Homo sapiens: one gene and its partner. The protein of the gene in region 2 binds, or shares a complex with, the protein of the main gene of each other region. Each region holds a gene or a part of one and is shown on either strand. Other genes may lie near its edges.

Region 1 (7,388 bases), on a different chromosome or scaffold from region 2:
AACCATACACAAAGCAGTAGCTTACTTGTTTGTAACATATTAATGGAAATGGCATTAAATAACCATGTTACACATTTAGGAAAATCTATGTAAAAATTTTTTGGAGGGAGGGGAAGCAATGTATCCTTTTTTGTTCAATAATTATCCACATTCATTTAAAAGAAAAGTTTCTTCTCATCTCAATATAAAGTTCGTTTATATCAAAAGAAAACATCAAATTCAGGTATAAAACATCATTAGTGATTATAGCTCCAAGATACCAAAATACAACTAGTATCATTTGTTGCAAAGGCAATGTGAATGGCATATGATAGAAAAAAGACATCTTCAGCTATGAGATCTATCCATTTAAAAAAAGAATCTAGACACTTGCAATTTTAAAAGATGCTGAAATACTATACATTTTATTAAAGTATGATTAAATCTTATATATACTTCTTATAACTTTAATATATAGTTAACATAAATAAACCTCCCACATATTATTCAGAATTCCTATAATAACTCACCCTATTCTTCTTAAGGTTAGAAAGTTCATCCACCACAATTTTTTGTTCTTTAATCTATTGAAATAAAGAAAAACTCCTTAAGTCAGATGTTTTCAAAGTATGCTCAATGAAAATCCCTTAAGGGGTTGTTTTAAAATTAGAGATGGGATAAGGGGCTATGATGTACTGGTTTTCCAAACGGGCAGTTTGTGAATATACAGATCATTTTCAACAGGAGTCTCTGTGTGGGGGTACAGTTCAGGAAAAGCTGGAGGAGAAAAAACAGTGATTAGACTTGCAAAATGTTAGGTAACCCATTAAGACCAGACAGGGATTTTCGTGTTCATAACCAGCAATCATGCCAAGGACTACAGTTACTAAACAAGGTTTATACCTTTTGTTAAAAATATATGATATACACCAGGCCGGGTGCGGTGGCTCATGCCTGTAATCCCAGCACTTCGGGAGGCCAAGGCGGGCGGATCACCTGAAGTCGGGAGTTCGAGACCAGCCTGACCAACATGCAGACACCCCATCTCTACTAAAAATACAAAATTAGCCAAGCGTAGTGGCACATGCCTGTAATCCCAGCTATTCGGGAGGCTGAGGCAGGAGAACTGCTTGAACCCGGGAGGCGGAGGCTGCAGTGAGCCAAGATTGCACCACTGCACTCTAGCCTGGGCAACAAGAGTGAAACTCCGTCTCAAAAAAATAAATAAATAAATAATTTAAAAAATATATATATATGATATACACCAAAAGGAATTAAGTTGTGATTTAGATTGAAAATTAAGTTGTGATTTAGATTTAAAAAAAAGCAAATTGAATGAGGGGTGGGTTACTTTTTTCAATATTTTCATGATTTTATGTACTAAGTGCTGCAGTCAAACATTCAAATCAAGCAATGCCCTATTTGGGGACAGTAAGACCTATCATGTTCCATCTTGGTATTTTTCCCTCTTTTTATCTCAATGACTAGCATAGAGCTGGCACTGTTGAACTGGGCTTTTTTTTTTTTTTTTTTTTTGAAACAGGGTCTTGCTCTGTTACCCAGGCTGGAGTGCAGTGGTGCGATCACGGCTCACTGCAGCTTTGATCTTCCCGGGCTCAGGCGATTCTCACACCTTAGCCTCCGAGTAGCTGGGACTACAGGCCTGGGCCACCATGCTGGCCTGGGCTTCATTTATTTGTAGGGGAGGGCTCAACTAAGTGAAAACTAAGTTTCTTTTTAACTCTATTTATTTTGTGAACATGACTGATTACATAGTATCACAAGAGCCTCTAAAAGCAGCTTTTATCATATTTGTGCTACCTCACACACACCTCAGGGATCTGTAACCACCAGTATGCGTAAGTGGCTTGCTATGGTGGTAATCAGAATGGGCTGTGTGTCTTTTGAAAATTCACCCCCAATCCCCATGAATGTGCACCTTTCTGTCTCCCCCGTTGGCAGAGCTGTAGTAATGAGGTTGAATTCCAAGGCCAAATTTGTAAACATTCTTTGAGACTTAACATTTATACAGGGCTTTCCCATTTTAGGAATGACAGGTGTACATTTCACTTTACTTCAAAGAAGGTAACTGATACAGAAAGATTAAAGAGACTTGCCCAAGATGTCATTGTAAGTTTGGGACAGAACCAAAGTAGAATCTAGGACATGTAATACCTGAAGGGCTATAACCCTCGCCACCCCCATTTATCTTTAAAGGTTGTTTGTTTATGGCAGTTAAGGCTTATATTATATTGGCTTCCTCTCTCCCCCAGTTTGGTATGAGTGACAACCCAATGCGTGTTTTAGGACCATTGCTCTGGTTAACGGAGAAGCAGCAGCTAACAGGTGGATGAGGAGAGACCGCTTAGGAAGGCCTTGCCGGGGGCAGGGGTCCCGATAGCAGATGACGGTGGCTTATTTGGGGTGGTAAGAGTGTTCACGGTGATAAAGGGACATATTTGAAATGAGCTTCAAAGGTAGAACTGATAGGCTTCCATGATGGGGGTCAAGGATGGACCCCGGGTTGCTGGCATGGTTAACTGGATGGAGAATATCTTTGATGGAACAGATTTGGGGTGGGCGGTATTTCCAAAAGTTTAAAAAGACTAGGGAGGAAAACACCCAACCAAAACTCCGCCCCACTGTCACCTGGGTCCAGTCTCGGGACAAATTTCAAGATCTCCCTTTTCGCAACTGTTTTCAGAAAATAAAAGGACTAACTGTGGCTGTCAAGTGCTATGAATAAAAAGAGCAAAGTAGCAGGGCAAAGCCGAGGCCCAGGCAGGCCCCACGCTGCCCGCTGCGGACCACCTTCAGGGTCCAGTGGCGCCCGGTCCCGAGTCCAGGAGCCTTTTCGTCGCGTCTCACACTCACCTTGCTGCTTAGATCCTCCTTGTGTGGGGTCGAATTGTCGGTGGGGATCAGCACAGAGCTGTCCTCTGGTCGCGTCCCTCGGCTGGGCATTTCCACCGAGCGCAAGACACGCGGGATGGCTCAGCCCTGAAGGAGCCTACGGCATTAGCCACAGCGCATGCGCGCTTCCAGCCGCGCTCACCCTTTCTTTTCCCGCGAGTCTTACCAATAGCGTCTGCGCGCTCACTTGAACGCATGCGCAGGCCGGGTCTGGCCTGGGGAGGAGTTTCGCGCCTGCGCATGGCTGCTTAGGGAGCGAGTAAACAGTCTGGTTGCAAAATCTGAGGTTCCTGTACTGGCCTCTTGTGGTTGAGATGCAGAAACGCTCAGGTGGTTTCTTCATGACCTCTTATCTAGTATACTACGAGTTCTGTGCGCCCTCCAGTGGTAAATATGAAGAATAGTCGTGCAATAGAAACAGCGCTTAATATGATATTTATTATCTAGGGAAAGATGAAGCTAAGGAACAGATTTAAGAGATACCGTGTTGGCAAAAGAACTGTACAGACTTGGTAAAGTTTTGGTTAACTCGTGGTTAGGGTTGCCGGATAAAATACAGTATGAACTTCAGATGAATTAATAGTTTTTTAGTGCATCTATGTCCCGTGCAATATTTGCAATATCTCATTTCTGTGGAAAAAATGACTAAAACTTGGAAATAGGCAAAAGAGATTTATTTACTGGATGCTCTTTCAGTGCTGCTCTGGACTTGACTTTATTATATTGACTGGGCTGTTTTACAATTCTGTAGGGGCAAAGGTTAACTTTGGTAGAGATTTTGGTTTGGTAGAGATGCAAATAATTTTTTGTTGTACCAGATACCAACACAGGTTATGATTTATTGTTCTGCAACACATTAGTCAGTTTTGTATCTAACCCTGCATTCTGTCCTAACATTTCTTTATTAACATATGCCTAGCTTCTCTAATATTCTGTATTGGTTTTAAAGTCATCGGTTCCCTCACTAACCAATGAGTTGAATAAAAGTTTGACATGTATATATTTTATGTTCACATTAGAGACATGATTTTAGGTTTTTGATAATTATACTATATTATTGGAAATCTTAAGTTTCCACAGAGATGCCCAACTGGATTTATGTGATGAATCAAACTATCTGGCGAAAGAAATGTATACATCATGGGTTGTTTAAGGCCAGGCATGTTTTTTATTTGCTCTTACAGAAAACCCAAGTGGTTATATATTTTTCCTTTATAATTGATTTTTAAAGATTGTGTTTTCATTTCTGATTTGTACATTCCTGATAAGTTATTCAGGTATAACTTATACATTACTGATACATTGATAGCAGCAATGATTGGGAGTTTGGTTTTGTGGTCTAACCATTTGGTGGTATCTGTTGGATGATGGACGTCTAGTCTCATTGGTAGAGAGGTAGATAGGTGCAGTGGCTCAAACCTGTAATCGCAACCACTCGGGGCTGAGGTGGGAGGATTACTTGAGGCCAGGGGTTCAAATAAATAAATAAGAGAGGTGACAGAGAAGCGAGTTTGTAAGTCTTTTTGTTTATTGTTTGTGAGCTCAAATTAATTAATTACTTTTGTGTCCACTGAGAGGGAAGGAGGACAGCTATTTGAGATGTGGGCTAGTAAGGTTTTGTTTGTTTGTTTTAACATAAAGGCCGCTCAAGCAGAAGAACTGGTGAATTTTTGTGGTTTTGTGTTTACTTTTGACCTGAGATTGAAGTTGTAAGACAGAAGCAATAACCTCTTTATGTGTCTGTGTGTCTGTAACTTAGAACAGGCTTTATGTCTCCCTTTGTAAATATGAAATATTTCCCTACTTCTGGAGTGTATTAATAAATCCCACTATAGTATCTCTAATTAAAGGGCCTCTGTTCTGACTAGTTTATAGAGAAAAATAAGCACTGGTATAATCCCAATATTTTTAAAAGCCCAGAATTTCCAATACTTTAAATGTGCCAGATTTTTAAGGAAAAAAGTTCTTACAAAACTGCTAGCTTAGAAACATTTTAAGAATCCAAGTTTAGGAAAAAGAGAGCTCCAAAGTGAAGTATCACTTCACTTTGTTGTTGTTGTTATTTTGAGACACAGTCTTTCTCTGTTGCCCTGGCTGGAGTGCAGTGGTGCGATCTCTGCTCACTGCAACCTCTGCCTTCTGGATTCAAGCTATTCTCCTGCCTCAGCTTCCCAAGTACCTGGGATTACAAGTGTGTGCCACCATGCCCGGCTGATTTTTGTATTTTTAGTAGAGATGGGGTTTCAGTATGTTGGCCAGGCTGGTCTCAAAGTCCTGGCTTCCAGCTATCTGCCCGCCTCAGCCTTCCAAAATGCTGGGGTTATAGGTGTGCGCTGCCAGGACTGGCTTCCACTTTGTTTAGAGGTAATAGTGAGGCTTATCTGTAAAGCTGATGAGACTGAGCATCCTAGCCTATTGGTCTTCTTTGTACCCCACCTTCTATTATAGTGTCTGGCAGAGTGGGAGCTCTGGTTAAAGTTTGAATTGGTTCTGACTCACAATCATGTCCACATCGAGTAGCCGGAAACACCCAACACCGCTGATTGGTCTACAGCTGTTCACCCCGTTTTGGGAAGTGGGCTGTTGCTTACGGCTCTGCCAGGTTCTGATGTTTTTGTTTATTCACAAGGGCTGCCCAAGACAACATAGTACTAAACAAAATAGTACTAAACAAAGTGGTGATAATAATTTTAGTATGGTGCTAAACTGTCTTAAAAGTGCTTTCACACTTTGTCTTATTTAAAAAATATTTATCTATTTGCTTCTATTTCCTCCTTCAGCTGCTCTAACTTCTGCATTGCTTGAAGTCAGCTTTGGGGTTAGCTAGTACCATGTGTCATGCCTAACTGGCTCAGGACTGCCCATCTGCAGCCCACCATACAACTGGAAACTATGTCTTCTCTTCCAGTGATTCTCAACAGAGCTAGGGGTTTCCCTAGCTGATGCTTGAAAAAATGTTTGGAGGTACTGTTGGTTGTCACAGTGATTGGATGGTTCTGTTAACTCTGATGGGTAGGACAGACTGGAAGTCATTTGAAAGGAGACAGACTCAACTACAGACTCTTCTAAGAGGCGTAGACTAGCAGACCAAAGGGAAATCTCAGCAAGTAGACAGTGCTGGTAATTGCCGGTGGGGGGAGGGGGTTGGAGAGGGGGAAGTAAGGTAGGCTGTAGGACCAAGGGGGTGAAGTCAAAGGAGAGGTAATATCACAGTCTAAATAGGTGATTTATATCAATAATTCTGCCAGAAGGTGACAGGGCCTGAGATATTGGACTGATGTTTTCCACAAGGCTCTAGGATCTGGGAAAGGAACTACTGGATCCTTACCATAAACTCTTTGCAGGGAGAACGCAGGGAGAATGCTTTGTCGCCCTAGTAACAAAGCACATCAGGCTGGTCTTGGTCTCTCAAGGGAAATGGCAGAGTTTCCAAGTACTGGTCTAGAGATTAGTAAATCCTTTTTACTTGAGATAAGGCTGGTTCTCAAGCTTTGCTTCAAAGCTGTGGAATGCGGACATCAGGCCTCCCTGACGCTTGCAGCCAACTTCACTTTGGAGCTCTTGTGCAGGGCTGAAACAGGATGTGGTGAGTGTGGTAGGGTGCAAATTTGAAGATGCACTGACTCTCAGGTCCTGCAGTAAGTGCTCTTTAAATTTTCTGCCCAGGTGCCTCACATGCCTCATCTAAGCATATTCGTCTTCTTTCCAATCCACTGCTCTCCTGCCAGTTGGATTTGAAAATTTCATTGTTGGTAGTTCTGTTTTACAATCTAGAGGTCAGTGTGGTTTGTGAATGTCACCAATGAAAGATGTTTTATATGCTGCCCATGCCTGTTGTATCTTCACATAGTCTGACAGCTATAAAGAAGGTTAATCGAAATTATCTTGGCTTCTTCTAGAACTATTCCATATGAGTGCCACTGTCCACCTCTTTCCCAAAGATTCAAATATGGATGCAAGGCAAAGAAAATATTTGATTGGTTAAAGTGGACCAGTAGCCTTATTTGGATCATTCCATTGGAAAATCCCTAGTTAGAGGTTAGTTGTTGGTTTCTGATTGGTTAAGCTAAGTTCTGTTTACCTAGAATATAACCTTTTAGCTTTTGGTTTGTTTAGGTAGGCACTCAGCTCTAGAGCTGCTTCAGTGTAATGGCCTTCCGATTTATTATTTTAATACTTCCTTTCTATGTTTTGGAAGAGTTTTTGTAGAATTAATGTTATTTCTTCTATTAATATTATATAGAATTTTCCAGTGAATTTATCTGTGCCTAAAGTTTTCTTTGTTCAATGGTTTATAAAAACTATTATTTTTCTTTTTTCTTTTTTTTATACTTTAAGTTCTGGGGTATATGTGCAGAACGTGCAGTTTTGTTACATAGGTATACATGTGCCATGGTGGTTTGCTGCACCCATCAACCCATCACCTCCATTAGGTATTTATCCTAATGTTATCCTTCCCCCATCGCCAACCCTCAGACAGGCCCTGGCGTGTGATG
Region 2 (6,327 bases):
GCTCCTGTCCCTCCAGCACGTCCCCTGCACCACGGCATAGCTTAGGTGCGCCGTCCTGGGGTCGCTGCCGAGAGCGCCTGGACTTCGACGTCCCACCAGCGGGCGCCTCCTCCCAGAGGCTTCCAGGAGCACGAGGGCCTTGCGGCACAGGACTGTGCCCTGTGCTGTCCCCTGCACCCCGGCTCAGCTGAGCTGGGGAACACTGCTGTCGTGTGAAGTCACAGTGGCCTTGTTGGTGCCCACAGGGCTGTGTGGATGGAGGAAGCTGTCCCTGCCCAGTGCATCCCCCAGGTCATCACGGGGACGCAGGAGGCAGGCCCTGCCCTGCCCTCTCCTCACAGGTCTGTTGCAGGGACTCCAGAAACCATTCTGGGAGCCGTGGATGGGGGCGGAGCTGGGGTTTGGTGCAGTTTCCAGGGTGCAGTACAGCAGGGCCTGAATACTGGCCCTGGACTCCCTTTTCCAGAACACCAGGTGTGGCCACCTGGGGCTCAGGTACACAGTGGGGTCTCTCGGAAGCCACCGTGTGGTTCTTTCACAGGCACGTTTATTTTGCTGAAATAAAAAGTTTTTAATCGGGTGTTTTCTGTGGCAGCTGCAAGCTTAGAAGATTTTCTGTGGCAGCTGCAAGCTTAGAAGAAGGGGCCAGGGAGGGGACAGAGAGAGCCCCGTGGCGTGGCCCTGGGCCTCCCCCTAGGGGAGGGATGTGTGAGGAAGGGAACCCCCCGCCACGGGGCCCCGCGAGGTGGGAGCCCGGGTGGTCTTCACCACAGGCTGTGCAGACGGTCAGGCATCGAATGACCTCGTCACGTCCACCTGCAGCCCAGGGCAGTCCAGGAAAACGTTCTCGATGACGGACGTATCCCCCGGCTCTAAGGTTTCGCACGTCAGCCCCACATGGCCACCAAGCACTGGAAACGTGGCCCATGCGCCTGTGGAACTGCATTTTTTTTTTTTTTTGAGACAGGGTGTGACCCTGTGGCCCAGGCTGGAGTACAGGAGCACAATCGTAGCTCACTGCAGCCTCGGCCTCCTGGGCTCAAATGATCCTCCCGCCTCAGCCTCCCAAAGTGTTGGGATTACAGGTGTGAGCCACTGTGCCCAGGTAATCTTAAAGTTTTTTGTAGAGGTGGGGGGTTTCTCTGTGTTGCCCGGGCTGGTCTTTTAACTCCTGAGCTCAAGCGATCCTCCACTTCCTGGGTTCAAGTGATTCTCCTGCCTTAGCTCCCAAGTAGCTGGGATTACAGGCATGCACCACCACGCCCAGGTAATTTTTGTATTTTTTGCAGTGATGGGATTTTGCCATGTTGGTCAGGCTGGTCTCGAACTCCCGACCTCAGGTGATCCGCCCACCTCGGCCTCCCAAAGTGCTGGGATTACAGGCGTGAGCCACCGCGCCCGGCCACCTCCAGAATTTTCTCATCTTCCCAAACTAAAACTGTGCACATGACACACTCTGTCCCCTCCCTCCTCCCCAGCCCTGGGAACCCCCATCCCCACCCAACTCCCCAGTCCCGGGAACCCCCATCCTACTTCCAGTCTCTGACGACTCTAGTGACCTCCTAGGAGTGACATCAGTGTTTGTCCCTTTGGGTCTGGCTTGCTTTGGCCAAGACAATTTTGAAAAAAGTACATTTGGAGAGAAGGGGAAGCACTGTCCCCATCACACACACAGTCCGCGGCCTGGGGATCTGGGGACCCTGCTGCACAGAACAGTGGGCGCGTTACAGACCACCGACCGCCCGAGGGTGAATTACATCTTAATAAAGCTACTGTGAGAGAACCACGTGGCTAGGTTAAACTTGGGCAGGCGAGGCCTTCTGAAATCAGACAGTAAGCAAACGGGGAAGTAGAGCCAGATCCCAAACGTCTGTAAGAGGAACTGGCCGCAAACCACAGCTGCACAAGCCAGAGAACAACTCCACACCCTCACGGGAAGGGAAGAGACAGACACGCTCACGCCTTACCCAGGAGCACGAAGTGGGAGGGCAGGGCGAGGGCCTGGGGAGACACTGACCCCTGAAGCCAGCGCGAGGAGGGCACACCTGCCAGGCTGACCTCGTGTGCTTGGGGTGAGGCAAGGCCACCTGCTGGAAACCTTGTTAGTCGGCCTGGTTTCTGTATCAAGCAAATTTATTTGCTCAAAACATCTTTACCATTTGAAAACACCCAACCTCCTACAACAACCGAGAACTCCAGAGCTGGCATCTCGCACCCTGGTGGCTTGAGCGCGTGCATGGCTGTGAATGGAGTAAAGAGCCGAGGCCGGGCGGGGGCCGCCACGCATCAGGGCCCCCGAGGGAGGGAAGACGAGGGGTGGAAGGCCGAGGGCCCAGGAGGAAGCAGTGGCTGGTGGGAGACCCGGACCCCAAACCCCCAACAGAGGGGACCCAGCGTGGTCTGGGTGAAGACCCGGCACCAGCTGCCCCCAGGTGACCTCCCTCTGGGGGCCTTGTTCCTTCTGAGGCTGCATCTCGCACAAATCCACAGGTGAATGGGGCGGGCTGGGCCACAGGAAGCCTCACCCCAGGACGGGAGAACGTGGGTGGAGGCCACCTGCCTTGGGGAGTCCAGAGGAGCAGCAGCCGTGAGAGCTGTGGGGGCCGGATTCTGGCAGGGCAGGGGCGTTTGTCCTGCAGGGATGGGGGTCGCTGTGTGTCCGCCTCTAGGGGCTAGGAAAGGGGGAGAGTGGTCACACGACAGGGGCAGATCCAGTATGCCCAGGACAGCACAACGCCCACCGAACGTGACGGGGTGCGGGAGGCCTGGCAGGAGGCGGCCCAGGCCGCAGTGCAGAGGCCGGACGGCTCCCTTGTGCCCAGCGGTCACACAGGCGTGGGCAGTAGCTCTGACCTCAAAGGAACCGTGCCAGCGTCAGACCAGGCCAAGCCCCACCCCTGGGCTGAGTGTGAAGTGGGGCGGCCTGCAGGACAGCAGCTCGCCATGACCAGAGTCCAGGGGAAGCTGGGAGGCTCTCGCCATGGGCAGAGGCTGTCCCGCTCCTGAGACTCCGGCCAGTCCCTCCCAAGGTGCCCACTCAGGGAAGGGTTGGCCTGAAGCTGTGCCTCCTCTCTCAGCTCTGGGGTCTCTGGGCAGGTTTCTAAACCCTCTTCTGGAAAGTCCCGCCGCACAACTGCCCTGCAGGTGAACGTCTCCTGCTTCTAAGGTGGGTCAGCGGCGGAGAGACGCACGCCCCGCGTACCAGGACTCTCCCGTCCAGGCGCACAGCCCCAAGAGCTGCAGCCTACGGTCGGGTGGGGTCTGGGGGTCTGGGGGTGTCCTGGGAGCGCCTGGTGGCCCAGCTGGGCTGGTGCTAGGAGGGTCTTGCTGCCGGACAAAGCAAGAACAGCCCTGCACACCGACGGAGGGGACGACACCCCTGCCTCTGACCCCACCTCAGTGCCTGTCCCTCGGCCGTCTCACCTGTCAGGCGGTAGCTACTGCACCAGCCGGTAGGTGATGTACCTGCCAGCCGTCTCACTGGGCCGGATGATCTTCACCACCTGCAGAGACAGAGAGCAGGGGCTGCGAATGCTTGAGGGGTCTCACTGCAGTCACCAGACAGCAGGCGGGCAGCACACGGGCTGGGGATGGCCGGCAGGGGTCCGAGATGGCTGACCCTGGGCTGTGGGACCCGCTCCCTGGGAACCTGGGTCACGCTCTTCTCTGGGCCCAGTGGCCCTGGCTTTAAGAGGGGGATATTGGGGGTGTGGTCTCGAGGTCCCCTCCAGGCCCTGGATCAAGGGGGAGGGGCTGTCGGGGAGGGACAGAAGCCCCCTTCTCCGAGTGGTCAGCTCAGAGCAGCCCCAGGGCCCCTTCTCCCCACAGGGCTCACCTGCCCACGCTTTATCCCAAAGTAGCGCGCCACAGGGTCCCCCGCCTGGATCCTGGGCAGCTGGTTCTCTCGGAGCTTACTGCGAAGCACCGTCAGGAAAATGCCAGACAGGGCCGTTGGGGGGGCAGGGGTGTGTGTGGGGGGGGAACGCGGAAGTCTCGAGGGACAGGGAGGGGCGGGGCCGGTGGGGCTGGAAAGGATACTATCGGGCCAGCAGCTCTGTCACCTCCTCCTTGGTCATGACGACGTGCTCAGGGACTAGCTGCCGAGAGAGGAAGCCACCAGGCATCACCAAGGGCTGGTGAGACCCCACGTGGCTCCCAGGTGCCACCACAGCCCCTGCGCCTTCAGACGGACAAGAGCCCTGAACCCCACCCCGATCCCCGGCACTCAGGGAGCCCACCCACCCCACCCTGGCTCCACAGGCGGGGGACGGAGTCACAGCTCCTGGGGCTTCTGAGGCAGACGGGCTGGGCACAGCCACCTCCTGCTGGGACTCCTCCTGTCCCAGCACTAGGGTCCCTCCACACTCCCAGCAGTCCCGATTCTACAGGCTGGGGTGGGCCCGGGATCTGCATTTTTTTTTTTTTTTTTTTTTTTGAGATGGAGTCTTGCTCTGTCTCCCAGGCTGGAGTGCAGTGGCACAATCTCGGCTCCCCGAGTAGCTGGGACTACAGGCGCTCGCCACCACGCCTGGCTAATTTTTTTGTATTTTTAGTAGAGACGGGGTTTCACCGTGTTAGCCAGGATGGTCTGGAACTCCTGACCTCGTGATCCGCCCGCCTCGGCCTCCCAAAGTGCTGGGATTACATGTGTGAGCCACCGCGCCCGGCCGGGATCTGCATTTCTAGGAAGCTCCCGGGTTCGGCTGCTGCAGGCCCAGGGCCACCCTTTGAGAACCCTGTCCTCCATGCACTAATAGGAACACCTGCCCTGGGCCCCAGATCCCACATCTTCCTGGCCACCCACAAACGCTGCATCTCTGCCGGCCCCACGCAGGCGGGATTCCGCGGCGCGCGCCCACCTCGTGCTCCGTGATGTTGATGAGCAGCTCCTGCTGCAGAAACTGCTCCAGGATGTACTTGGGGGCCATGTCGACCAGGGACTGGAAGAGAGCGGCTCTAAGGCACGGCCCGGAGGGGCCCAGACAACCCCAACCCCATTTCCTGCCTCAAGCTACCTGGGGCTTACTCGTGTGCCCCAACAACACACCCACGTCGTGAATCAGAAAACCCCACCGCCAGCCCAGGAGCCTTCAACAGCCCGCCCCTCCCCAGCCTCTCTGCTCATCGAGAGCCTCATCCAGCAGTGAAGTGGCCGTGGAAACTCGGATGTGTTTCCATCCATCACACGCTTCCAGGGGCGGCCCTCAGAGCTGGCAGGGCGACCTCTTCCCCATACAGGGGTGCTGCTCTGTGTGGCTGCGTGAACCCCACAGCTGGTGGGCCAGGGACTAAACTGCTCTGCTGACTGCCCGTCACAGCACAGCAGCCTGGCTCCAGAGTGTCCGACAGACAGACGGGGAACACGGATAGGCCCCTGGAGGACCCCGTGCCGGGCCTCCTCTGCAAGTCCCCCTGGACATCAGCTCAGGATAAAGAACCTCCGGCTCCTGGAATCTGCACCAGGCCGAGGGCTGGAGCCCACAGGAGCTGGCGAGAGGCACAGTGCCCTCCGCCCTGACGCCCCTCCTGAGAGCTGGGGGAGGACGGCGGCTGCCTGGGGTGGGGCCCATGGACGCGGTGGGAGGGAGGCGGTCGGGGCTTGCCGGACATCCCGGCCACATCCTCCAGGGCACCCTGGCTGGCCTGGCCCAAAGCCCAAGGCACGTGGGCCGCCTGTGGGTACTGCTTGCGGGAGGAGGCTGGGGAGGGGGAGAGGCTGGCGGGGTGGGGCAGGGGTGCCCACCTGCTTGGCGGAGGGTGTCATGCCCTGCTGCACCACGATGAGAGCCCGTGTGATGTTCTCCTCCTGCATGCGCTGGCAGTACACCTTGATGGTCTTGATGCCCACCTTGGGCTCCTCTGCAGACAGAGAGTGTGCTGGCCTGCACGAGCCTGGGCCCTCGTGGCCCTCGCCCACCCAGAGCCCAGAGCACCCAGGTTCCAGCCCCATTCCACACAGGTGTCTCTCCTGCTCGGGCCTCGGCTTCCGCGTTTGCAAAACGAGGCCTGAGTTGCAGGATCCCAGGACAGGGGAAGAGAGGGCTGAAACCTCTCATTCACCCGGAGACAGGGACAGGGGGCTGACACCCCTCAGTCACCCAGAGACCAGGGAGAAGCAGAGACCTTCGACTCTGAGAGGCTCCCACCCTGGGCAGTTCTGGGGAGGCGGGTGACTCAGCACCAACCTCTCCAACAAGCAGACCTCACACCCCAGGACGCTCTCTTTAAGAAGCATCACCTGAGGCCGGGTGCGGTGGCTCACACCTGTAATCCTAGCACTTTGGGAGGCTGAGGCAGGTGGATCACTTGAAGTCAACAGTTCTAAAC

The links. The genes of interacting proteins can lie anywhere in the genome.
Region 1: POLR2E (region 2) and ASDURF share a complex: the UniProt entries of both Homo sapiens proteins name them as parts of the PAQosome complex.

Annotation. Positions count from the first base shown.
Region 1 is NC_000002.12:189,657,076-189,664,463, reverse strand, and holds the start of ASDURF (ASDURF protein), read right to left. Parts: upstream 3,006-7,388; 5' UTR 2,944-3,005; coding exon 2,854-2,943; intron 564-2,853; coding exon 510-563; intron 1-509.
Region 2 is NC_000019.10:1,086,049-1,092,375, forward strand, and holds the end of POLR2E (DNA-directed RNA polymerases I, II, and III subunit RPABC1), read right to left. Parts: intron 5,860-6,327; coding exon 5,744-5,859; intron 4,941-5,743; coding exon 4,860-4,940; intron 4,098-4,859; coding exon 4,039-4,097; intron 3,918-4,038; coding exon of another isoform or gene 3,915-3,917; coding exon 3,836-3,914; intron 3,504-3,835; coding exon 3,438-3,503; 3' UTR 3,424-3,437; intron 2,673-3,423; 3' UTR 526-2,672; downstream 1-525. UniProt on the Homo sapiens protein: DNA-dependent RNA polymerase catalyzes the transcription of DNA into RNA using the four ribonucleoside triphosphates as substrates.